3 separate regions of the Homo sapiens genome follow, and regions 2 and 3 are each linked to region 1. The links come from fine-mapping of genetic effects on gene expression. A gene starts in region 1. Each other region holds a variant in brackets. All regions are shown on one strand. Distances are from middle to middle.

Evidence for each region. PIP is the estimated chance that this variant, and not a neighbour inherited with it, causes the effect.
Region 2: its variant is the best candidate, but not a certain one, in a credible set for the expression of DENND6A in whole blood (INTERVAL, PIP 0.84).
Region 3: its variant is the best candidate, but not a certain one, in a credible set for the expression of DENND6A in whole blood (TOPMed, PIP 0.56).

The regions. Positions count from the first base shown.
Region 1 is chr3:57,688,423-57,696,602 of GRCh38, reverse strand. DENND6A (DENN domain containing 6A) reads left to right here and starts at 3,526. Exons shown (of 20, transcript NM_152678.3): 1 at 3,526-3,821. The coding sequence starts at 3,585. It overlaps DENND6A-DT (DENND6A divergent transcript), which reads right to left and starts at 3,398. Exons shown (of 2, transcript NR_135550.1): 1 at 3,261-3,398; 2 at 1-2,787. RefSeq lists silencers at 3,527-3,626, 3,737-3,976 and an enhancer at 3,698-4,198.
Region 2 is chr3:57,722,753-57,730,932 of GRCh38, reverse strand. No RefSeq gene overlaps it. Among named protein-coding and RNA genes, the nearest start is that of SLMAP, 29 kb to the left of the region's middle. The variant G/A (reference allele first, on the strand shown) is at 3,638.
Region 3 is chr3:57,943,310-57,951,489 of GRCh38, reverse strand. No RefSeq gene overlaps it. Among named protein-coding and RNA genes, the nearest start is that of FLNB, 61 kb to the left of the region's middle. The variant G/A (reference allele first, on the strand shown) is at 3,836.

The DNA.
Region 1 (8,180 bases):
AGTCTTGCTCTTGTCGCCCAGGCTAAAGTGCAGTGGTGCTATCTTGGCTCACTGCATCCTTCACCTCCCGGGTTTAAGTGATTCTCCCACTTTAGCCTCCCAAGTAGCTGGCATTACGGGAGCACACCAACACACCTGGCTAATTTTTTGTATTTTTAGTAGAGACAGGGTCTCACCACGTTGGCCAGGCTGGTTTCAAGCTCCTGACCTCAAGTGATCCACCTGCCTCAGCCTCCCAAAGTGCTGAGATTACAGGCGTGAGCCACCACGCCCGGCTATTTATTTATTTATTCATTGAGACGGAGTCTCCCTCTGTCGCACAGGCTGGAGTGCAGTGGTGTGATCTCAGCTCACTGTCACCTCTGCCTCCCCAGATCAGAGGATCCTCCCACCTCAGCCTCCCAAGTAGCTGGGATTACAGGTGTGCACCACCACACCTGGCTAATTTTTGTATTTTCACTAGAGACAGGATTTCACCATGATGGCCAGGCTGGTCTGGAACTCCTGACCTCAGGTGATCCACCGGCCTTGGCCTCCCAAAGTGCTGGGATCACAGGCTAGTGACTTAACTTTAATAGAGAGTGTTAGAAAAGAGGCTGGCTAACTGAATGTCAGAAGATCCATGAATAGGAAGTTTGGAGAGATGATCCTATCCAAGATCCTTTCAGAGTCAAAGGTTCTTTTGATGAACCATAAGAAGGTGTCAGTACCTTGTTCCTCAGCTCCCATTAACAACAGAAACTGTGTGAAAATAGACTGTAAGGCAGAATGTCAAAGTTACGAAGGTAGAGGGAAATAAAGCCATAGCTGCTTTGTTTACCCTAGTGGTTATTCTGTTTCTGTGTATAAAGATTTAAGTAATGCTTTTTTCTGTTTTTGTTTTTTTTCTCCCCAAACAAGTTTTTTACTTTCAAAATTCTCTAGAGCTTTGGTGTGCTTTCTTTCTTTGGAAACTTCTGGCTCTCCTAATATGTTGTTTTCAGGGTACTGTATTTTGACAAGATCATCCTTAACCCAATATTATAAAGCAACACTTCACAGAATCGCAGTTTGTGTCTATGCGTCGAAGAACCAGCCCTGTGGAACAACTTATGTTCTTTTTTGGTGCTGGTTTTTGACACAGGGTCTTGCTGTGTTGCCCAGGCTGGAGTAGAGTGGCACAGTGATGGCTCACTGCAGCCTTGACCTTCTCCTTAACCCAATATTATAAAGCAACACTTCACAGAATCGCAGTTTGTGTCTATGTGTCGAAGAACCAGCCCTGTGGAACAACTTATGTTCTTTTTTGGTGCTGGTTTTTGACACAGGGTCTTGCTGTGTTGCCCAGGCTGGAGTAGAGTAGCACAGTGATGGCTCATTGCAGCCTTGACCTTCTGGGTTCCAGTGATTCTCCTATCTCAGCCTCTCAAGTAGCTGGAATTATAGGTGTGTGCCACCATGCCCAGCTAATTTTTAATTTTTTTTTAAGAGACGGGGCCTCCCTATGTTGCCCAGGCTGGTCTCAAACTCCTGGACTCACGTGATTCTACCGCCTCAGCCTCCCAACGTGCTGGGATTACAGGTGTGACCCACTGTGCTTGGCCACAACTGGTGTTTTGAGATCATTAATAATTAATAATGAAGTAGCATCTGGTAAAATGTGTACATTAGGATAGCTTAGCTTTTCCCAACAGTCAGTGAGGTGAGTTAGTAATCATCACTCTCATTTACCAGAAACTGGGTTTTGGAGCAGCTTGCCTACCACGATCGTGGTAGATTCTAGCTGGCACTAGAATCCAGAACTTTTGACTTCCACGCCAGTGTTCTTTCTAATACAAAAGGCTACTGTTCTTTCCTAATACTGGGTTTAGAGCCTTACTTGATCGCAGAATACAGTTTTTCCTCTTTTAACCACAGCAGTTCTCTGGAGTAGGATGGCAGGCTACTTTGGCCAAAGACTTGGCCTCTAACTTAAGTGCTGTCCCTAAGTTCATTTTTGTCTAAAGGAAGTCTCCAGCAAACGTCACTACTGATGTCTGTGCATACTTGACCACCTCCTTGAAAACAGGGACGCTAACACTTGCTCCAAAAAAAAATTCTAAGAATGTTAAGAGGGCAGTATTTGTCAAATGGAATGGATTTCACTGGGCAGTGCAGCAAAATGCTTAAGTTCTGCCGTGTTTTTTGTTTTGCGTTGTTTTTTAGAGACACAGTCGCGCTCTGTTGCCCAGGCTGGAGTGCAATGGCTGTTCGCAGGCGCGATCATAGCGCGCTGCAGCCTGGAACTCCTGCTCAAGCGATCCTCCTTGAACTTAGCCGGCCTCAGCTTCCCAAGAACCTGGGACTACAGGCGTGACACCTCGCTGGTTTACTCATTTTTCTGTTGAGGTATTATTGTGTGTTTCCTACTTTTACTATGCTATTTATACTCAACATAGTAGGTGCTGAATAAATACTAGTTAGTATCCTGGCTGGTCCAATACTCAGTAAAAACTGATCTCAGAATACGAAGCTGCTTGAGACCAGGCCCTTGCCCCAGTGTTCAGAGATCCACAGGTTGCTGTGGAGGCCAATCTGCCCAACCTGGAGTTCCAGAAAGGTCTGGGGATGTGTGTTGAGTGAGTCACAGACAGCCAAACTAAGAAAGGAGGAGGTGGTAGGGTGGGGAGGCCTTGCTGGAGAAGGAACAGGTGAGTGAATGCACAGATCTCTGAATCAGCAAACTGAATGAGTGAACCGCAAGCCGATATCGGAGTTGTCATACTTGTTGGGCTAGTCATGTAACCTCCAGGACCTCCATTTCCTTATCTGTAAAAAGAAATAAATAGTCTACTTATTTGCGATTATGTGAAGATTCAATAAGGTAATATTTGTAAGTATTCGCACTTGTACTTGGCATATCAACTGGCACAAAGTAAGCGTTCAATGTTAGCCACCGTCACCATTATGCGTTCATATATTTTATTTTTATTTTTTTGAGACGGAATCTCGCTCTGTCGCCCAGGGTAGACAGAATACAGTGGCGCAATCTCAGCTAACTGTAACCTCCTGGGTTCAAGCGATTCTCCTGCCTCAGCCTCCTGAGTAGCTGGGATCACAGGCGCGCTCCACCACGCCTGGCTAATTTTTTCGTATTTTTAGTAGAGACGGGGTTTCACCATGTTGGTCAGGCTGGTCTCGAACTCCTGACCTGATGATCCGCCCGCATCGGCCTCCCAAAATGCTGTGATTACAGGTGTGAACCACCGCGCCCGGCCTACGCTTTCATAATTTAATAATACCTTATAATAATTATGAACTGTGTCATTCCACGAATAATTTATTCCCTGGTCGTTGACTGCGAACGAGGTTGACAAGGATTCATAAACAGCCATTTCAGTCCCAAAGAGCTTTTAGACAAGGAAGCCAGGACCGGCTTCACAATCCGAGACAAGCGGCAGCGTGACGTCCCCACGTCCGCTCCCAGGGTCACGTGACCCGCAGCCCCGCCCGGACTGAGTGGGTCCCCAGCGGCTGCGACAGCAGCGTCTGCGCCTGCGCGGAGGCAAGCGCGCTCTGCGGCGCGGTCCGCTGTGGAGGCGGCGCGAACGGTCAGGGGGCGGCCGATGGCTTTGAGGGGCCCTGCGGGCTTGGGGCCCGGCTCTCGAAGGCCGTTGGACGAAGCGGTGGCAGGGGCCGAGGGCCGCGAGGCGCCGGCCCTTGTGGCGGCGGGAGGCGCGCCAGAGGACGATGAAGAGGACGATGGCCGTGGCCGGGGCCTGCTGCGCTGGGACAGCTTCTCCGCCTGGCTGCACTGCGTGTGTGTGGTGGGCTTCGACCTGGAGCTGGGCCAGGCCGTGGAGGTGAGGCCCGGCCCCGCCCTTTCTCGGCGCTCCTCCCCTGCGCCGGGGCGGCTGCAGCAAAGCCAGCGGCCCGCGGGCTGACCGGCCAGGACCCTGTCCGCGGCGCATCCGGGCGTGGCCAGTCTCCCCTCCCGCGCTCTTTCGGGCTGCGGTCCTACGGCACTTCCCGTGGGAGGATCTTGGGCTGCGGCTAGGGGTGAAAAGTTCTCTCTAGGCCCCTCCTAAATACTTGTTGATGTTCATCCTGTTCTTTCTTTATTTCTTTTAAACGCAGAGTCACAGAATTAACTAAAAGGGTTAGTAGCACCCACCCGGAGAAGCCCGCAGGCAGGATGTTTGTTTGGTACTTTTTCAAGAACAATGCCCATAACAGATGATGAACTCTAGTAGCCGAACTTGCACAACCAAGTTTTAAGGCTCAGATTGTTTTAGTCATTTGCAGTAACTGTTTGAGCGTTTCCCTCAGCCTGAGTCGAAATGCTTATCTCAGCACGCATTTTCTCCCTTTCCTCCTTTTGTGCCTCATTTCTGTTTTTTTTTTTTTTTTTTTTTGAGACGGAGTTTTTGCTCTTGTTGCTCAGGCTGGAGTGCAATGGCGCGATCTTGGCTCACCGCAACCTCTGCCTCCCGGATTCAGGCAATTCTCCTGCCTCAGCCTCCCGAGTAGCTGGGGTTACAGGCATGCGACCATGCCCGGCTAATTTTGTATTTTTAATAGAGACGGGGTTTCTCCATTTTGGTAAGGCTGGTCTCGAACTCCCGACTCAGGTGGTCTGCCCGCCTAGGCCTTCCAAAGTGGTGGGATTACATGCGTGAGCCACCGTGCCCGGCCTCATTTCTGTTATTTTTTTTTATGTTGCCTCTGGAACAGTTGGTGTGAAACTACTGTCAAGATGAATATAGGGAACATCATTTGCTTGTCAATCAGTCAACTTTTCCATTCTTATGTATGGCCCCTTACCGAAAGGCTTTAGAAACATCTATTCTTGACGTTGTTGAAGGTCTTTTTAGCATAAGGAATTGCTTGCTTTCATGTGTCCAAGGAAATTGTTATCAGAAGGGCGTTTGTTTAGACGTTTTGGTTTTGGTTTTTTTTTTTTTTTTTTTTTTTTGGTATTGGTGACAGATTTCGATTTCATTAATACTGTAGTGGCCTGGTTGACTAAGAAAATTGGCTAGGGGTAGTTTTCTTAATGCGAAGCTACTGCTTTCGTATTCGGCCTGCCTTCTGGATGTTTTATTATAACACAGTTCAGCGACATTAAGTTTCCACTAAGAACCAGGCATTATGTTAGTTGTGGAGCATACAAATAGGATGTGCTCTAATCTGTATTTGTAGATTGAGGCAATAATTTAGAGGAGAACCAAGAATTAATCATAGTAGCTGATAAGGCCAAATGCAGTGCCTGGCACCTAGTGGCATTCTATAAATACTTTTGATAGAATAGGTGAATATGTGAGCAATTCTTTATCTTATTAAAGTAAGAAAAACAGTTCCCAAAGATTTTGAGTAAGAGATTTATAAGCCATTTATTATTCACCTTGCCATGTTAACCTGAAGTTATATGTACAGCAAGATACAATTTAACCAGAAAGCATAAGAATGGGTTGTTGTAGTTGATTGTGTTTTTAAATAGCTAAAGGAGATTCTTTTGGATTCTCATTATTTGGGACATTCTTTATAACGTGAATATGTTTTTTGACCAAATAAACAGAAAATATATTTGAGATGCTGCAAAAATGTGAATTATTAAAGGACTTATTTTGAATTTCATTTTCCATAGTGTATGCCACTGTATAGAGTTTTTTCTAGGTCAGGAGTTCTTAACCTTTTGCTTCCTGGATCTTTTAAAAATATGAACATTGTGAATTTTCCACTAGGAAAAGGCTGAGTAAGATGAAATCATGTATGTGGTTCCATATATGTGGTTTCCAGCTATTTAAGACATAAACCTAGTAGGGCTTCAGAAAATGGCTAGAGTTCAGAACCAGGGAAACCTCTTGGTTTTGCTCTTTTTTTGTGTGCAGATCTTGTTTATATTTCATGTTCCCTGCAAACTGCCTTCTTCCCCTTCTCTGATTTTTTTTTTTTTTTTTAAAGACAGAGTCTAACTTTGTCAGCCAGGCTGGAGTGCAGTGGTGTAATTTCGGCTCACTGCAACCTCCACCTCCCAGGTTCAAGTGATTCTCCTGCCTCAGCCTGCCAAGTAGCTGGGACTACAGGTGCATGTCACCATGCCCAGCTAATTTTTGTTTTTTGAGAGAGAGAGTCTTGCTCTGTTGCCCAGGCTGGAGTGCAGTGGGGCAATCTCGTCTCCCTGCAAGCTCCGCCTCCCTGCAAGCTCCGCCTCCCAGGTTCACGCCATTCTCCTGCCTCAGCCTCCCAAGTTGCTGGGACTACAGGCACCCGCACCACGCCCGGCTAATTTTTTGTATTTTTAATAGAGACGGGGTTTCACCGTGTTAGCCAGGATGGTCTCGATCTCCTGACAGTGTGATCTGCCCACCTCAGCCTCCCAAAGTGCTGGGATTACAGGCATGAGCCACCGCGCCTGGCCTGCCCAGCTAATTTTGTTTTTTTTGTTTTTTTGTTTTTTTTAGTAGAGACAGGGTTTCACCATGTTGGCCAGGCTGGTCTTGAACTCCTGACCTCAAGTGATACACCTGCCTCAGCCTCCCAAAGTGCTGGGATTACAGGCGTGAGCCACCGCACCTGACTTTTTTTTTTTTTTTTCCTTAGAGACATGGTCTGCCTCAGATTGGAGTGCAGTGGCATGATCATAACTCACTACAACCTCGAACTCCTAAACTCGAGGGATCCTCCTGAGTATCTATGAATACAGACATGCACCACTACACCCGGCTATTTTTAATTTTTTTTGTGGGGACAGGGTCTTGCTATGTTGCCCAGGCTGGTCTCAAACTTGTAGCCTCAAACTGTCCTGCTGCCTCTGTCTTCCAAAGTGCTGGGATTATAGGTGTTGAGCCACCATGCCCAGCCCTTCTCTGATCTTTAAGGTGAGAAGCTAACGTTTTTAGCCACTTCAGTGAAAAAGAGTGAATCTTTAACTCACTTCCAAAGCCAGAGGAAGATAATCTGGCCTGGTTTGGGGCAGGTTCCTACTCTGATACAATTGGCTAAAGCCCTGAGTAGAAGGGGGAGTGGTTCACCTTGCATAAAATGTCTTTTAAGGCCCTGTCCTAAGTGAAGGGGGTTAAGGAGGTCTTTGAGCTAGGAAGAAACTGAACAAGGTGTTGACTGCAGGGGGTGTGCTGAGCTTCTTTTCCCCTGAAGTGGCTCTGGAGGCATTACCACAGAATCAAAGTGTCCTCTGGAACAAGGTTTGAAACCTCCTGGGTTTGATATACTGTACCTCACTTTTAGCTTTGAAATTACCAATTATTTAGTAAAGCCTTAATTATCCGAATACAGAATTACCTTATTTATTCAAGTTTTTTTTTTTTTTCTGAGTGAATAATAACATACTCATTGCTGAAAACTTGGCAAGTAAAGAAATCATAAACACTAGGCCGGGCATGGCGGCTCATGCCTGTAATTCCAGCACTTTGGGAGGCCGAGGCGGGCAGATCACGAGGTCAAGAGATCGAGACCACCCTGGCCAACACGGTGAAACCCCGTCTCTACTAAAAATACAAAAATCAGCTGGGCGCAGTGGCATACACCTGTAGTCCCAGCTACTCGGGAGGGTGAGGCAGGAGAATCGCTTGAACCTGGGAGGTGGAGGTTGCAGTAAGATCGGGCCACTGCACTCCAGCCTGGCGACACAGCAAGACTTTGTCTCAAAAAAAAAGAAAAATTATAAACACTAGAAAATATCACTCTTAATTCTACTAAGAGGCAACTGCTATTAATATTCGGCATTTTTGTTAATACTTTTTTTCTTTATATAATTTTGTATCTGTCAAGGATTAACTTGATTGTTAGGAACAGAAACCTCAAATAAACTTAAGTAAAGGGACAGTGATTGTAAGGATTCCAGGCAGTCTTTTGGAATCCAAGTGTGTGGGAAGCAAGGATGAACCTGTGGGATTTGGAAAGCCCCAGGCCTTTGTCTCTGGAGCTGTGTGTTTTTTTTTGTCTTTGGTCTTTGCATGTCTGTTCTTTTCTCCATGCTGAAGCTGGTTTGTGCTGCAGTGGCCTCAGTTTCTGCTCCCCCGTTACTCTGCTTGACTTTGGGTTTCCATGGTACTAATTTTAGCCAAACTCTTTTTCTGGAATGAGGCTGAAGCTTAATATTGGAGTATCTGATTGGCTCAGCATGGGACAGGTGTCCCATTTTGTTCACTTGTGGTTAGGAGACAAGGTTTCGCTAGCAGTAGCAGTCACTTAGGCTCACC
Region 2 (8,180 bases), 34 kb before region 1:
TTTGTGTAGGCATATGTATGCACAGGATTTGACTTACACAGATTCATATTCTACATACTGTTCTGTAAACTGATCTTTTAATTTTGCAACACATTGTGGACATCTTTCCACATCTATAAATATAAATCTATTCTAGCTTTCTAAACGGATGCATAGTATCACACTCTATATAAATAGACATGGTGAACATCCCTGTCCCATTTCTTTTCTTCTTTTAATTTATTTATTCAAATAAAATACGGCTTAGAGCCCACACTCTGAAGATGGATAAGAATTATTTCTGGGATTTCTTTCTGTACTGCAGTGAAGTATACAAGACCTCTAGAGTTTGGGTGGTCGAGTGGTCCTGGGTCACTGAAACGGGGTGATGCTGTTGATTTACCTTCATCTGACCAGAAAGCTGTCACCAGCACTCTTACTGCTCCTTCCAGGGTCTCAGTGCTTAGTGACCTGTCTCCCAGGCATCCTGCAGCCATCCCTGCTTGAGTCCTGTCTTCTGTTGCAAACTTCAGGAGAAGAAGGCATTTGGAAATCCTAAAAATCCCAGGCTGGGAGTGGTGGCTCATGCCTGTAATCCCAGCATTTTGGGAAGTCAAGGCGGGTGGATCACCTGAGGTCAGGAGTTTGAGACCAGCCTGGCCAACATGGCAAAACCCGGTCTCTACTAAAAATACAAAAAATTAGCCAGGCGTGGTGGTGCACACCTGTAATCCCAACTACTTTGGAGGCTGAGGCACGAGAATGGCTTGAACCTGGTAGGGCGGAGGTTGTAGTGAGCCGAGTTTGCGCTGCTGCATGCCAGCTTGAGTGACAGAGTGAGACCCTGTCTCAAAACAAACAAACAAACAAACAAAATCCCGGCCGGGTGCAGTGGCTCACGCCTGTAATCCCAGCACTTTGGGAGGCCGAGGCATTCGGATCACGAGGTCAGGAGTTTGAGACCAGCCTGGCCAATATGGTGAAACCCCATCTCTACTAAAGATACAAAAAATTAGCTGGGCATGGTGGTGTGCGCCTCTAATCCCAGCGACTCGGGAACCTGGAGCAGGAGAATTGCTTGAACCTGGGAGGCGGAAGTTGCAGTTAGTCGTGATTGCGCCACTGCACCCCAGCCTGGGTGACAGAGTAAGACTCCATCTCAAAAAAAAAAAAAAAAAAAATCCCACAACCCTTCCCCAGACTCAGTGCGATTCATCCTTTCTTTACGTTAGCAAAAAGTTCTTGGAAAACAAAGGCCTATTAATTCTTTAGGTCAAGGGAAAGGTAAAACTCTAGCCCAGGCTAGTTTCTTAGGAGATGGGGAGAAGGGGAACTGCTGCTCAATCTTTCCAGATAAACCTGTAACAGAGAACTAGACAGTTGACTTTGGGGGTGTTATGTAACCTCCTTAAACCTCAAATTCTTTATAAGATAGCAACAAATAGCAACTCTATCCTGCCAGCTGTAGAGGCCAAAAAACTTAGTTGCTTGGCCTAAGTAAAGAATGTCTCTCATTCTCTCAGCTGCAAGTCATCACATTCTGCCTGTTGAAACTTCAAAGAGATCCAGAATCTGACCTTTTCTCCCCACATCCACTGTTTGCAGCTTGGTCCATCATGTCTTACCTGGGCTTTTGCAGTAGCCTCCTAACAGGTCTCCTTGTGATCACTTTTCAAGGCACTAGCCCGTGACTTTTTAAAATGCATGATGGCTTTACATCTAACTTGGAGAAAAAAGCAAAATTCTTAGACTAGCCTAGAAAGCCCTTCTATGTGAATTAGCCCCACTTCTCTCACCTCAGCCCCAACCATCCTCCTCTTCAGTCGTCTACCCTTGCCAAACCTGTCAAGCATGCTCCTTGCCCTTGCTGTTTTCTTGGCCACTAGCTATTTTCAAGGCTAATGGTTGTCAGTTGTCTCCAACCATTAGCTCAAACCATTCCCTTTATCAGTATCCCCATACCCTGCTTCATTTTTCTCCACAGCACTTTTCATTGGCACACTGTATGTTTATTTATTTTTTTTATTATTTCCTTTTTTTTTTTTTTTTTTTTTTGAGACAGAGTCTTGCTCTGTCACCCAGGCAGGAGTGCAGTGGTGCTATCTCCGTTTACTGCAACCTCCGCCTCTCAGGTTCAAGCTATTCTCATGTCTCAGCCTCCCGAGTAGCTGGGATTACAGGCATGCACCACCAGACCCGGTTAATTTTTGTATTTTTAGTAGAGACGGGGTTTCACCATGTTGGCCTTCACCATGTTGGCCAGGCTGGTCTCGAACTCCTGACCTCAAGTGATCCACCTGCTCCAGCCTCCCAAAGTGCTGGGATTACAGGTGTGAGCCACCGTACCCGGCCTTATTATTTGTCTCTTAAAGCTGGAATGTAAGCCTGTTGAAGGAAGAGACTTGTGCCATAAGCAGTGCCTGGCACGCATTAGGGGCTCAATAAATATTTCCTGAATGAATGAATGGAAAATGATAATCCCTGTCTTTCAGAGTTGGGGTGAGGATTCATTGAGATAATGTAGTGCCTAGCAAATAGTAAGGACTATGTAAATACAGATTACTATTGCATATGATTATTATTATGTTTAAGCTAGGCTTTGAAGAATATATTTTTTAAAAGGGCATTCCAGCAAAGAGACTGACTGGAGCAGAAGCCTAGAAGTAGGAAGTACCCTGTAGGTGGGTGTGAACTGCATTAAGAATGTGTGAGAAAACTGGTTATTGGCAAGAGATAGGGCTGGAAATAGAGTGACAGAGAAGAATGTGGAGGAAATTGAATTAAAAGCTCAGAAATTTAGGTTTTTGTCCCTAACAGTAGGGGGACCATCTGGGATTTTCAGCAGAGAAAGCTATGATAAGATATTGGGTTTTGTGCCACTGCACTCTAGCCTGGGCGACAGAGCGAGACTCCATCTCAAAACAAAAGATATTGGGTTTTTTGTTTGTTTAAGATGGAGTCTTATTCTGTCACCCAGGCTGGAATGCAGTGGCGCAATCTTGGCATACTGCAGCCTCCACCTCTCAGGCTTAAGCAATTCTCCTGCCTCAGCCTCCCGAGTAGGTGGGATTACAGGTGCCCGCCACCACACCCAACTAATTTTTGTATTTTTAGTAGAGACAGGGTTTCACCATGTTGGCCAGGCTGGTCCCGAACTCCTGACCTCAAGTGATCCGCCGGCCTCGGCCTCCCAAAGTGTTGGGATTACAGGCGTGAGCCACTGCGCCAGCCAGATCTTGGTTTGATAATTGATTATCCTGTGTTGCAAAGTTGCTTTTTCTAGCTTGTAGGGAGTGGATTTGTTAATCAGAGAAAACAATTAGTTTAAGAAATGTTTGTTTTTGTTTTGGGTTTGTTTGTTTTTGTTTGTTTGTTTGTTTGTTTTTTGAGACAAGGCCTCACTCTCGTCACCCAGGCTGGAGTACAGTGGCGCCATCATGGCACACTGCAGTGTTGACTTCCTGGCCTCAAGTGATTCTCCCACCTCAGCCTCCCGAGTAGCTGGGACTAAAGACATGCGTCACCACACCCAGCTTCTTTAAGAAACTTTGATGGACTATTTTGAATAGAAGCTGATGGGACCTTGCCTATGACCTTATCTATAACCCTTCTTTTCATGTAAGCAACAAACATGCTCCGTGGGGGCGGGTGGAGCCTG[G/A]GAAAACCTGAGAGTCAGAGCCTTGTGATTCACTTTTAGACAATCTGCACTGCCTGGGGTTCTAATTCAGTTATTTCCTCTTTCAAGATTCACGTTTGCTTAACTTTTGGATTAAGTTTATTTCAAAACTTGATGGTGTTTTATGCTTTGGTTTTCCATTTCATATACAATGTCTAAACATATCTCTCTCCATTATATACCCCATTTTCAGTATAAAGTCTTGCTATTTAAAGTGTGGTCCTGGGATCAGCTGCATTACCTTTTTTTTTTTTTGAGTTGGAGTCTCACTCTGTCATTTAGTCATTTTGGCTGTGCAGTGGCATGATCTTGGCTCACTGCAACCTCCGCCTCCCAGATTCAAGCAATTCTCCTGTCTCAGCCTCCCAAGTAGCTGAGATTACAGGCACACACCACCACACCCAGCTAATTTTTGTATTTTTAGTAGGTATGGGGTTTCACCATATTGGTCAGGCTGGTCATGAACTCCTAACCTCAGGTGATCCACCTGCCTCAGCCTCCCAAAGTGCTGGGATTACAGGTGTGAGCCATCATGCCTGGCCAGGACCAGCTGCATTATCATCACTTGGGAGCTTGTTAAAAATACATAATTCTCAGGACCCACTCAGTCCCACTGAATTAGCAAATGCATTTAACAAGATCCCTGGTGATGTGTGTGCACTTGAGGTTTAAGAAGCACTCCTCTTAAGCATCTCTTAACCCATGGCTCCTCCAGTCTCCCTCAAGAGCCCCTTAGCACCTCTAATATTCTAAATAAACTTTCTGAACAAGTTCCTTAGCCACTCTCTCCAACTAGAAAGTTTTCTACACTCTACTTTTTGGATAGAAAATTTGGGCTGAGCATGGTGGCTCATACCTGTAATCCCAGCACTTTAGGAGGCCAAGGTGGGTGGATCACCTGAGGTCAGGAGTTTGAGACCAGCCTGACTAACATAGTGAAACCCCATCTCTACTAACAACACAAAATTAGCTGGATGGGGTGGTGCTCGCCTGTAATCCCAGCTCCTAGGGAGGCTGAGGCAGGAGAATCTCTTGAACCCGGGAGGAGGAGGTTGCAGTGAGCCAAGATCGTGCCATTGCACTCCACTTTGGGCAACAAGAGAGAAACTCCATCTCAAATCAAATAAATAAATGTATAGAAAAATTGAAGCAGCAATTGCTCTAGATGTTTCTCAAGGTACAATCTCTAGATCACTTGCATTCGAATAACTTAGAGGGTGTATTAAAAGAGTGCGGATTCCTAGACCCACCTTACATCTGCTGAATATGACTCTTTTGAAGGGCCCTGCAAACCACTTTTTAAACTAACATCTGATATATATCAGCCATCAAAGAATCATCAGAAAAATTCTGGCTGCAGAAACAAATGCAGTCCCTGACCTTATTACCTACCTGTCCTCAGTACTGAATTTTCTTTCCAGCTCTAACCCTGCTCCCTCATCCTGACCTGCATTCTGCTGTTTGAAATACAGTAATTTAACTATGACCGTATTGTTAGTGCTTCTTGTGAAAGATCCCACACAAATGTGGTTCTCGCATCTCTTTTTCAAATATATGCAAACAGGATTCTAGAATTTCATTTTTTGTTAGTTATCAGTCACTAATATTCATACAAATTCCTATCTAACAATAAAACATTTATCTCTCTGCTTTTTAGTATTTTATTATGAAATGAAAGATAATGTTTTTCTTGTGTTTAATGCTTTTTTTTACATCATCATGTTCTCCTTCATCTGTATCTTGTATCAGGCCAGCCAGTTTTGTCGTCAATCCTATTGGAAAGGTACCTGGGAAGGGGGAGGGGGAATGGCAGATGTATTATTTGTTAGTTTGTGATATTATATAGCTAAATTTGACCTTATTATACCATTCTTCTGGGCCTGGGAGGTGAGGATGGGGCAGTGACAAGTGCTGAAACAGGTGGTTGGTGCCTGCAGTTTACTGGTCAGCATTTTTTTTTTTTTTTGAGATGGAGTTTCCCTCTTGTTGCTCAAGCTGCAGTTGCAATGGCACGATCTTGGCTCACTGCAACCTCAGCCTCCCAGGTTCAAGTGATTCTCCTGCCTCAGCCTCCCAAGTAGCTGGGACTACAGGTGCCTGCCACCATGCCTGGCTAAAAGTCAGCCTTTTTTTTTTTTTTTTTGAGACAGAGTTTTGCTCTTGTTGCCCAGTTTGGAGTGCAATGGCACAATCTCAGCTCACTGCAACCTCCGCCTCCCAAGTTCAGTCTATTCTCCTGCCTCAGCCTCCTGAGTATCTGGGATTACGGGCGTGTGCCACCACGCACAGCTAACTTTTTTGTATATTTAGTAGAGACGGGGTTTCACCATGTTGGTCAGGCTGATCTTGAACTCTTGTCCTCAGGTGATTCGCACCCCCTCAGCCTCCCAAAGTGCTGGGATTACAGCCGTGAGCTACCGCTCCCAGCCCAGCCTTTTTATTACTAGTGACTACATCAAGGACTTCCACTGCTGACACAAAAGTCGAGGAGAATGGCTGAAAGCTTCTCATGTAGCTATTAGTTAAGAAATTAAATTACACTGTTTGAAGCCACATTAATAGATATTAAATGTTAAAGTAATAAAATGACATATCTTGCAAATTAAATTTGAATGAAGTTCTAATCTTAATGAAGAGGGATCAAAAGGGAGACAGAATAGAATGCGTCCAGATTTCTGCATCCACCCCCAAGAGTGTTGTTTTAAATTAAAAAGTACAGCTGGGTTCAGTGGCTCACGCCTGTGATCCCAGCACTTTGGGAGGCTGAGGTGGACAGATCACCTGAGGTCAGGAGTTCGAGACCAGCCAACATGGCAAATACCATCTCTACTAAAAATACAAAACGTTAGCCAGGCATGACTTGGGGGGGCGCCTGTAATCCCAGCTACTCTGGAGGCTAAGGCAAGAGAATTGCTTGAACCTGGGAGGCAGAGGTTTCAGTGAGCTGAGATGGCGCCACTGCACTCCAGCCTGGGCGACAGAGTGAGACTTTGTCTTAAAAAAACTTATCTCAAAAAATTAGAAAGTAAAAAACACATCTTCTTTTCTCTCTCAAAGAGGCTCAAGGCTTCAAAAGCATTCTATAATGTGTCCCTCTCCATGTATCCTTTCTGAAACCCCAGCAAGATATAAACTTGTCTTTTTTTTTTTTTTGAGACGAAGTCTTGCTCTGTCTCCAGGCTGGAGTGCAGTGGCGCCGTCTCGACTCACTGCAACCTCCACCTCCCAGGTTCAAGCAGTTCTCCTGCCTCAGTCTCCCAAGTAGCTGGGACTACAGGCGCGTGCCACCATGCCAAGCTAATTTTTTTGTGTTTTTTTAGTTAGAGGCAGGGTTTCACCATGTTGGCCAGGATGGTCTCAATCTCTTGACCTCGTGATCCGCCCGCCTTGGCCTCCCAAAGTTCTGGGATTACAGGTTTGAGCCACTGCGCCCGGCCAATCTTGTCTTTTTAGATCCTCTATAATACTTCTTTCCTTTTAAATTCTCATTTTAGTTATCTTACAATTCCTTAATTTGTGGTCATATCTGAGCCTCCCCTTCTTGGTTGTATTTCCTTGGCCAGTTGTAAATTCCCTTAAGCAGAAACTGTGCATTCTCTTCTTTGTGCCTATCGACAAGTATTTATTGGATTTACCATGTTCAGCACAGTAAGGCATACAAAAGCATAAATTACAAAACAATTTAACTTGAAAGAAAAATCTTACCCATATAAAAGAAGCTAATATGAGATTGCATATACGTCTATGACTAATGGAGATATTAGTCTTTTTTTTTTTTTTTTTTTGAGACAGAGTTTTGCTTTTGTTGCCCAGGCTGGAGTGCAATGGCGCGATCTCGGCTCACCGCAACCTCCACCTCCCAGGTGCAAGCAATTCTCCTGCCTCAGCCTCCTGAGTAGCTGGGATTACAGGCATGTGCCACTATGCCCGGCTAATTTTGTGTTTTTAGTAGAGACGAGGTTTCTCCATGTTGAGGCTGGTCTCAAACTCCTGACCTCAGGTGATCTGCCCGCCTCTGCCTCCCAAAGTGCTGGGATTACAGGTGTGAGCCACTGCGCCAGTCCAGAGATACTAGTCTTGATCCAATACAGTTCTGTCCTGGTGGGTACAAAACCACTGAAGTTGTGTATGGGTGCCTGGGCCCTCAACTCTAAGAAAAGTGGCCATAGAACCTGCAGTTAAAGTCCCAGTGATCTAAAGGAAGTAGATGCCCTCAAAAGAGCTGCTTATATTCAAACAGAAAATGAGGCCAGTGAATATCTCCAAGCCATAAAATGATAAACCAGAGGCCATGCTTCTTCATTCAATTTTCATGGAGTCCATAATTTCCAGGATTTATGTATACTTCAAGGAGGGAGGGACACGAGAATATTGGTCATTACCTGAGACAGGCAGATGAAGCCAATGCCAAATTTAATTTGATTTAGGAAACTCAAAGTAAAGATGGAAGCTGGGCATGGGGGCTTGTGCCTGTAATCCCAGCACTTTGGGAGGCCGAGGCAGGAGGATTGCTTGAGCCCAGGAA
Region 3 (8,180 bases), 250 kb before region 1:
AGGCTTCTGGGAGGAGGCTTAGGTTCCAACCTGGCTCCTTTCTCAGGACAGCTTTAGAACTGAGGCATGTGGTGAGAAGAGGGGAGCGGGGGCTCAGCAGCTGAGTTTGAACCTCCTCTCCTTCACTTACTGAACTGCATGATCAGGAACACCAATCTGACCTTCAGTTTCCTTCCTTGCAAAATTACTCCTTTTCCATAAGTGGTAATTTTATTTGGGCTTATCATTCTCATGAGGCCTCCATGGGGTCAGGGATGAGAAAGCACAGGGTCTAGCAAGAAACTGGCACATAAACATTAAAAAAAAATTTCCTCATCTTCAAATGTGACTCCCTTGGCTTTTTTGAGGAAATCATTCTGAGCAGGAGAGTGGAATGCAAAAGCAATTTAAATAATTTTTTTCCAAAAGTGGAAAATATCTTTTTTTTTTTTCCTCTGTCTCACTCTGTTCACCACAATACAATCTCCACCTCCAGGTTCAAGCGATTCTCCTGCCTCAGCCTCCTGAGTAGCTGGGATTACAGGTGCCCACCACCACAACCAGCTAATTTTTGTATTTTTAGTAGAGACGAAGTTTCACCATGTTGGCCAGGCTGGTCTCGAATTCCTGACCTCAGGTGATCCACCCGCCTCAGCCTCCCAAAGTGCTGGGATTACAGGCGTGAGCCACTATGCTCAGCTGAAAATATCTTTTAATTTAAAAAGTTACTTCATTCTGTCAATTCGAAGACGCACATTTTTTTCACATTTCAACATCTCAAAAATGCAGATGTGTCTAATAGATGACACATTGTAGCAGTTTGCTTTCAGGGGAGTACAGAAAATAATTGTCTTTCAATCAATGGCATCTTAGACTCAGGAAATGTGGTCTAAAAGGGATATATGTTCATTGTGTAAAGTTTTTCTAATTATTATTATTATTTTATTTTTGAGACAAGGTCTCCCTCTGTTGCCCAGGCTGGAGTGTAGTGGCCTGATCACAGGTCACTGAAATCTCAACTTCCCCAGCTCAAGCAATCCTCTCGCCTCAGCCTCCTGAGTAGCTGGGGCCACAGGTGCACATCACCATGCCCAGTTAATTAAAAAAAATTTTTTTTTTGTAGAGACGAGGCCTGTGTTGTCCAGGCAGATCTTAAACTCCTGAGCTCAACTGATCCTCCTGCCTCAGCCTCCCAAAGTGGGGATTACAGGCGTGAGCCACGGCACCCAGCACCGTATAAAGTTTAGACACACAGAAGTATACATAATAAAGACTCCCTGAGTTCAGCTCTCCAGAGAATACCACCACCCTAGAGAAAGTCCACTTTGTGTGCAAGAGCATGCTTCTGTTTTTGTTCTAATTGCCCAGAAACTCTCCTCAGACCAGTCACCCACACCTTCTCCTATTTCTGAGAGCCAAATTAATGCTCAACTAAGGATAGCAACACATTATAAATTAGGATTTCATGATTAGTCACTTTCCCCACCCCCAGCCCACGTGGCTGGCACCTTTCCTCACTGCCCAGGCCTGTCTGGAGTGGCAGTGCAGTGCCCTGTGCTGACCAGAAGGTGTGGGGCTGAGGAAGTCAATGATTCAAGCCTTTACAAAAGTGTACGTGCAGTGCAGTTTGTAGTTTTATTATTTGCAGGTGACAAAAATCAGGGTGGTGTGGGGCCTGAAGGGTTTGGAAAGCTGGAAAGTACTGGGAAATTAGAAAGGTATGTCTTGCTCAAGAACTGGTTTTGTTTCTTGTTTTTGAGATGGGCTCACTCTGTCACCCAGGCTGGGGTGCAGTGGTTCGATCACTGCTCACTGCAGCCTGAGATTCCCGGGCTTAAGTGATCCTCTTGCCTCTCAGCCTCCAGAGAAGCTGGGACTATAGGCGTGCACCACCATGCCTGGCTAAGTTTTTTATTTTTTGTAGAGGTTTCACTATCTTGCCCAGGCTGGTCTCCAACTCCTGGCCTCCCACCTTGGCCTCACAAAGTGCTGGGATTACAGGCGTAAGCTACCACACCCAGCCTCAAGGACAGTTTTTTTTTTTTTTTTTTAAACCATCATACAATTTAGTAGAACCACCAGCAGCACCATGCTCAGCTCTATGCCAACTTAACCAAACCAGGAAGAAGGCGTTCACTTGGCCCACAGGAGGTCAAGGGCTGTGTGAGCTTGTGCCGACTCTGCTGAACAGGTACTAGCTATCAGGAGCAAAGCGTTGTGAAGGATTCTGAGATCCACGTCTTTCCAAGAAGACAGGGTCAATGACTTGTCCAAGTTCATTTGACTACCAATCGGTGGAACCAATCTGGAATGCAGTAGTCTATTGTCAAGCAAATCCAGGGCTCTTTCCACCATGCCATGTGGTGGCCTTCCGAGGGCCACCCTCTCCTCACCCCCATCAGCAACATTAAAAACTCTTCTTTGCCCTGAGTCTACCTCTGTGGCTTCATGTGGATCGCAACTTCAGCAGGAGACTGAGATGAGGGGGAAGGGGAAGGAGGCGTGGAAACCCCAGCCTGAGGGACCTCTGGCTATGAATGAGGCTTCTGTCTGCCTGCGCTGTGCGTCTGGAATTTTGTATGAAAGCAATGAACTGGAAGGAGGTGAAAGCACGTTCGCAAAAGCAAGGCCACCACAGGCCCTCTCCCTTGCTTATAAAAGACTTGCTTTGTTTCAGGCAAAGCAAAGGAGAAGCTAGGGATATGCTGAGGTTTGGTGGCGCTCAGGTGTTTGAGGTTAACGTGCCAATGACTAGGAGGAGGTGGCCATCAGAAAAATCAGGAGCCCAACCCGAACCTGAGGTTTCGGACTCCTAATCATCTTCACAGCCATGCTCATATTTGTGTAATGCTTTATAGTGTGCGGAATGCTTTCTCAGACATTTTCTCAACAGAGGGAGAGCTTAGGGAGGGATGAAGAGCGCCGATTCATGCAGCCTTCTATCTGGCTGTCTGGGTGACTGTGGTGTGCCAGGCACTGTGGATGCTGTGCTTTGTTCATCACTGTCCCCATCCTTAGGAGTCTGACGGATGGGTAGAAGTCCTGGCCTCCCTGCCTGCCAGCTTCAGGACCTTGCACAAGTTAATCAATCGTTGTAGCAGCTGCAAAAGGGAGAATGACAGTGGCTGCCTAGCAGGGTGGCTGTGAGGATTAAAGGAGCTCTGGGGGTGAGGGGCCTGGCTTATGACAAGGCCTTAATCGATGGTGGCTATTAGCCGTCATGGCCAGTGAGATGCGAACAGTAAGGCTGGGCACAATACGGTCTAGCCTGGAAGCATCTGGGTATGCCTGGATGTCATTCCCACCTAGAAAAACGGTATGGTGGTGGGCAGCAAGGGGTTACGGGGAGTTGCTGCATCGTGTCAGGCAGGCTGTGGACTCCTGGTGGGAGGGGCCCACAGGGCTGGGGAATGCTGGTTAATAGAGTCCAAGGAACTGTGCGGCTTTCCACTTTAACCACAATATACAAGTACTGAGATCGAATGAGGGTCAAATTGTATCATTCCTCTCCTCCATCCCTCCCCTAGGTCCCCATCTCACTCAGAGGAATAGCTACAATCCTCAGAATGACCTACAAGGTCCTACACAATTGGGTCCCCACTACCTCCCTGACCTCTGCTCCTCCGGTTCTCTTTCTTCCTCTCTTTGCTGGCCACAAGGGCCTCCTTGACCATCCTCAAATATGCCAAGCACGCTGTGGTCTCGGGGCCCTTGCACATGCTGTTCCCACTGCCAGATATGTTCTTCCCCCAGATATTTATTTTATAGTTCCCTCATTTCCTTCAGACTTCTCAAACGCCATCTTTTCAAAGAGGTCTTCTTTGACTACTTTATATAAAATAGCAACCCGCTGATG[G/A]TGGTCCCTATCCACCACACATGCTGAATCTCCCCCCACCAGAGCACTTATTAACCTATGACATATTTAATTAATTAATTTATTTTGAGATGGAGTCTTGCTCTGTCACCCAGGCTGGAGTACTGTGGTGCAGTCTTGGCTCACTGCAACCTCTGCCTCCCAGGTTCAAGTGATTTTCCTGACTCAGCCTCCCGAGTAGCTGGGACTACAGGCATGCACCACGCCTGGCTAATTTTTGTATTTTTAGCAGAGATGGGGTTTTGCCATGTTGTCCAGGCTGGTCTTGAACTCTTGACCTCAAGTGATCCACCCACCTCGGCCTTCCAAAGTGCTGGGATTACACGTGTGAGCCACTGTGCCCGGCCCTGTGACATATTTTATAACATATACAAGCATGTTATCTGTCTCTTTCTCCACTAGAAATGTAAGTTCCATAAGGGCAAGGATTTTGTTTGTTTAAGTGTTAGGACTTAGCACTATGTTTGGCATGCAACGGGTGCTCAAAAAATATTATTGAATGAATCAATTACTGTTGAGAGAAAACAGCAGGCTGCTATACAGTGGTATGGCGGGAGTCCTTTTTCATCACCTAGAACTAATATTTGTTTGAGATTGCTTCATGTAAGCATTGACTAAACCCTTTACATGCATTAGCTTATTTAAGCAGGTACTATTATTATTATTATTTTTAGATGGAGTCTCGCTCTGTTGCTTAGGTTGGAGTGCGATGGCATAATCTCAGCTCACTGCAACCTCCACCTCCCGGGTTCAAGCGATTTTCCTGTCTCAGCCTCCTGAGTAGCTGGATTACAGGCTCCTGCCACCACGCCCGGCTAATTTTTGTATTTTTATTAGAGACGGCGTTTCACCATGTTGGTCAGCCTGGTCTTGAACTCTTGACCTCGTGATCCACCCACCTCAGCCTGCCAAAGTGCTGATATTACAGGCATGAGCCAACGCACCCAGCCCAGGTACTATTATTATCTCATATTTATTTATTTATTTATTTATTTATTTTAGAGGGAGTCTTACTCTGTTGCCCAGGCTGGAGTGCAATGGCGCAATCTCGGATCACTGCAACCTCTGCCTCCTGGGTTCAAGTGATTCTCCTGCCTCAGCCTCCAGGGTGGCTGGGAATATAGGCACCCACCACCACGCCTGGCTAATTTTTGCATTTTTAGTAGAGATGGGGTTTCACCATGTTAGCCAGGATGGTCTCGATCTCCTGACTTCATGATACGCCCGCCTCGGCCTCCCAAAGTCCTGGGATTACAGGCATGAGCCACCACACTCAGCCTATTTTTTATTTTTTAACACAGAGTCTCACTCTGTTGCCTAGGCTGGAGTGGAGTGGTGCAATCTTGGCTCACTGTAACCTCTGCTTCCTGGGTTCAAGCGATTCTCCTGCCTCAGCCTTCTGAGTAGCTGGGATGACAGGTGCCTGCCACCACGCCTGGCTTTTTTTTTCTTTTTACTTTTTAAATTTTTTTGAGCCAGAGTCTTGCTCTGTCACCCAGGCTGGAGTGCAGTGGCGCGATCTCGATACACTGCAAGCTCCGCCTCCTGGGTTCAAGTGATTCTCCTGCCTCAGCCTCTCGAGTAGCTGGGATTATAGGCATGCACCATGTCCGGCTAATTTTTGTATTTTTAGTAAAGACGAGATTTCACCATGTTGGCCAGGCTGGTCTTGAACTCCTGACTTCAGGTGATCCACCTACCTTAGCCTCCCAAAGTGCTGGGATTACAGGCGTGAGCCACCGCACTCAGCTGCCTGGCAAATTTTTGTATTTTTTGGTAGAGATAGAATTTCACCATGTTGGCCAGGCTGGTCTCAAACTCCTGACCCCAAGTGATCCGCCTGCCTCGGCCTCCCAGAGTGCTGGGATTACAGGTGTGAGCCACTGTGCCCAGCCTTATCTTGTTTTATTGAAGAGGAAACTGGATCTCAAAGGAGTTAGTTATCTTACTTCAGTTAGTAATGGCACAGCCAGAACTGTGTCTAGTCCTGATGACCCGAGTATGGGCTCTTAGCCATCACACAATGTTCATTCCTGATGGAATCTGAAAGGGTGGATACCAGAACTATAGTAAGTTTACAGGTGATCTGTATCCCTTCTTCATATTTTTCTATACTTATGTTTTTTCCCCAAGAAGCATGTATTAATTTTATATTAGGAAAAAAAAGTTGTTCCACTTGTCCATCTATCCACTAGGCATAACCAAAAGAGTGGGGACTCAATTGAGGAAGGTTGCTCACAGCTGTTTTGGGAGCCCCTGAATCCCAGAATCTCTCGGAACTTGGTTAAGAGCAGGAAGGTTGGGGGGACCCCAGGCTCAGATGATGATGGCAGGAAGATGATGTCCAGGTAGGATGTTAGGATTGCGACTGTTAGCACAGGCAGCAAGGGCTGAGATGGAAAACAAAGCTTCTCTGCAAGTGCAGTGGTACGACGTCTTTTCCTTCTCGATTCTTGTGTTGCACAGACCGTAAAAATGTCTCAAGGTCTGAGGCTGGCTGGGTTAATTGATGCCACCTTTCCCAAAATGTGTTTGGCTTTGGACCTGTGACAACAATCACATTTTCATCCAGAAAGAACAGGCAGACTTATCTTAGATGACCCAGCCTCATACTTCTCAGAGTGGGTTTCTGTCCCTGCAGGATCTAGTTAGGAGGAAAGAGATGCTGTGACAACTTCTTGACTAATTCCTTCAGATCCATAAGATCCTTGTCCCCCCAACCCTCCAGTTGCCAGTAAACACTATATTAGGGCAAGAAACCAGCACTCCTGGTACAAAGTAAAGAGAATATCCTTCTTTCACGGAAATACACACTAAAGTGTGTAGGGGCAAAGGAACAAAATGAATGACATTCTCAAACAGTTCAGAAAAAAAATACGCACCTGTGTGTGTGTGTGTGTGTGTGTGTGTATACACACACAGAGAGAAAGCAAATGAGGCGAGGTGTAAACTGGAAAATCTGGGTGAAGGGCAAATGTGAGTTCCTTGTGCTATTCTTGCAACTCTTCTGCAAATTTAAAATCATATCAAAGTAAAAAGTTTCCAAAAAAAAAAGTTTCAAAAAAAAAAAAAAGTATATGTATGCCGAATTAACTAAAGTGCTCAGAGGAGACGCTGAGCAAAGGATCCAAGTCCTTTTCTTGTGTTAAATCAATGCAAGAACTTGAGAAAATTACGATCACCCCATTCTTCCCATGGTTCACTGTGGACTCTCTTAAGCTTCCGGTATGGAAAATATCCTGCTCGGAAGAGAGCTTTGATCAGAAAAATGCAATAAATGCCTGGAGCCAGAGATCTGAATCTTTGCAAGGGACTGTAGGAGATAACACAGAAAAGGAAACTTGAGTACCTCCCCATGGGAAGGCCAAGGCAGGGTCAACATGGAGAAAATCTGAAAGCCTGCAGGCCACACTTTCCAGAGCAGTGGGGGGCTGGAAGGTGGCACAGGCAAGTAAGGCACAGCCCTGCTGTTAGGGGTTTATAGTTTAATAGGAGAGAGAAATGACACCAGGCAACTGGGTCATTTGGGGTAGAAAATGCCCCAAATGGGGTAGAAAATGCTCAGGGTAAGAGAAGGGTCACAGAAGAAATCCTCCAGGGGCTGAGAGCAGGGAGAGGAATTTCTGATGTAGACTGGGATGAAGACAGAGAGGCAGATACAGCAATACCCTGCACTGTAGCCTCATGATAAGTTCTCTTTCTGCTTAAGCCAGCCAGCTGGCTCATCACAACCAAAAGTGTGAATCCTCCCCTGCACTGGGGGCAGTTTTTGTACAATGCAGGCACACACACAGCGAGCTCCCTCTTGCCTCAACCATTTCTTTTGCCTGAAATGTCCTCTTCCTGATGTGCTTTCCAAATGCTGCTCTTCCACCAGGCCTAGCTCCAGCCAGCATGAAACCACTCATTCACACCTGACATGTTCCCACCTTCCCCTTGCAATGCCTTTCTGTTATATCCCCAATAAGCCCAAATCTTTCCAGTCCTTCGAGGCCCGCCTCCAATGTCTCATCCCCTTCCAGTTTCTCAGGCTGCTTTCTGGAGAAGTCATTTAATTCCGAGTCAATGCAAACCATCGATATAACTTGGTTGTTCAAACTTTTTTTTTGAGACAGGGTCTCCTGTTGCCCAGGCTGGAGTGCAGTAGTGTGACCATGGCTCACTGCAGCCTCAACCTCCCGGGCTCAAGTGATTCTCCTGCCTCAGCCGTCCAAGTAGCTGGGACTACAGGCATGTGCCACCACACCCAGCTCATTTTAAATTTTTTTGTACAGACAGGGTCTCATTATGTTGCCCAGGCTGATCTAGAACTTCTGGGCTCAAGCCA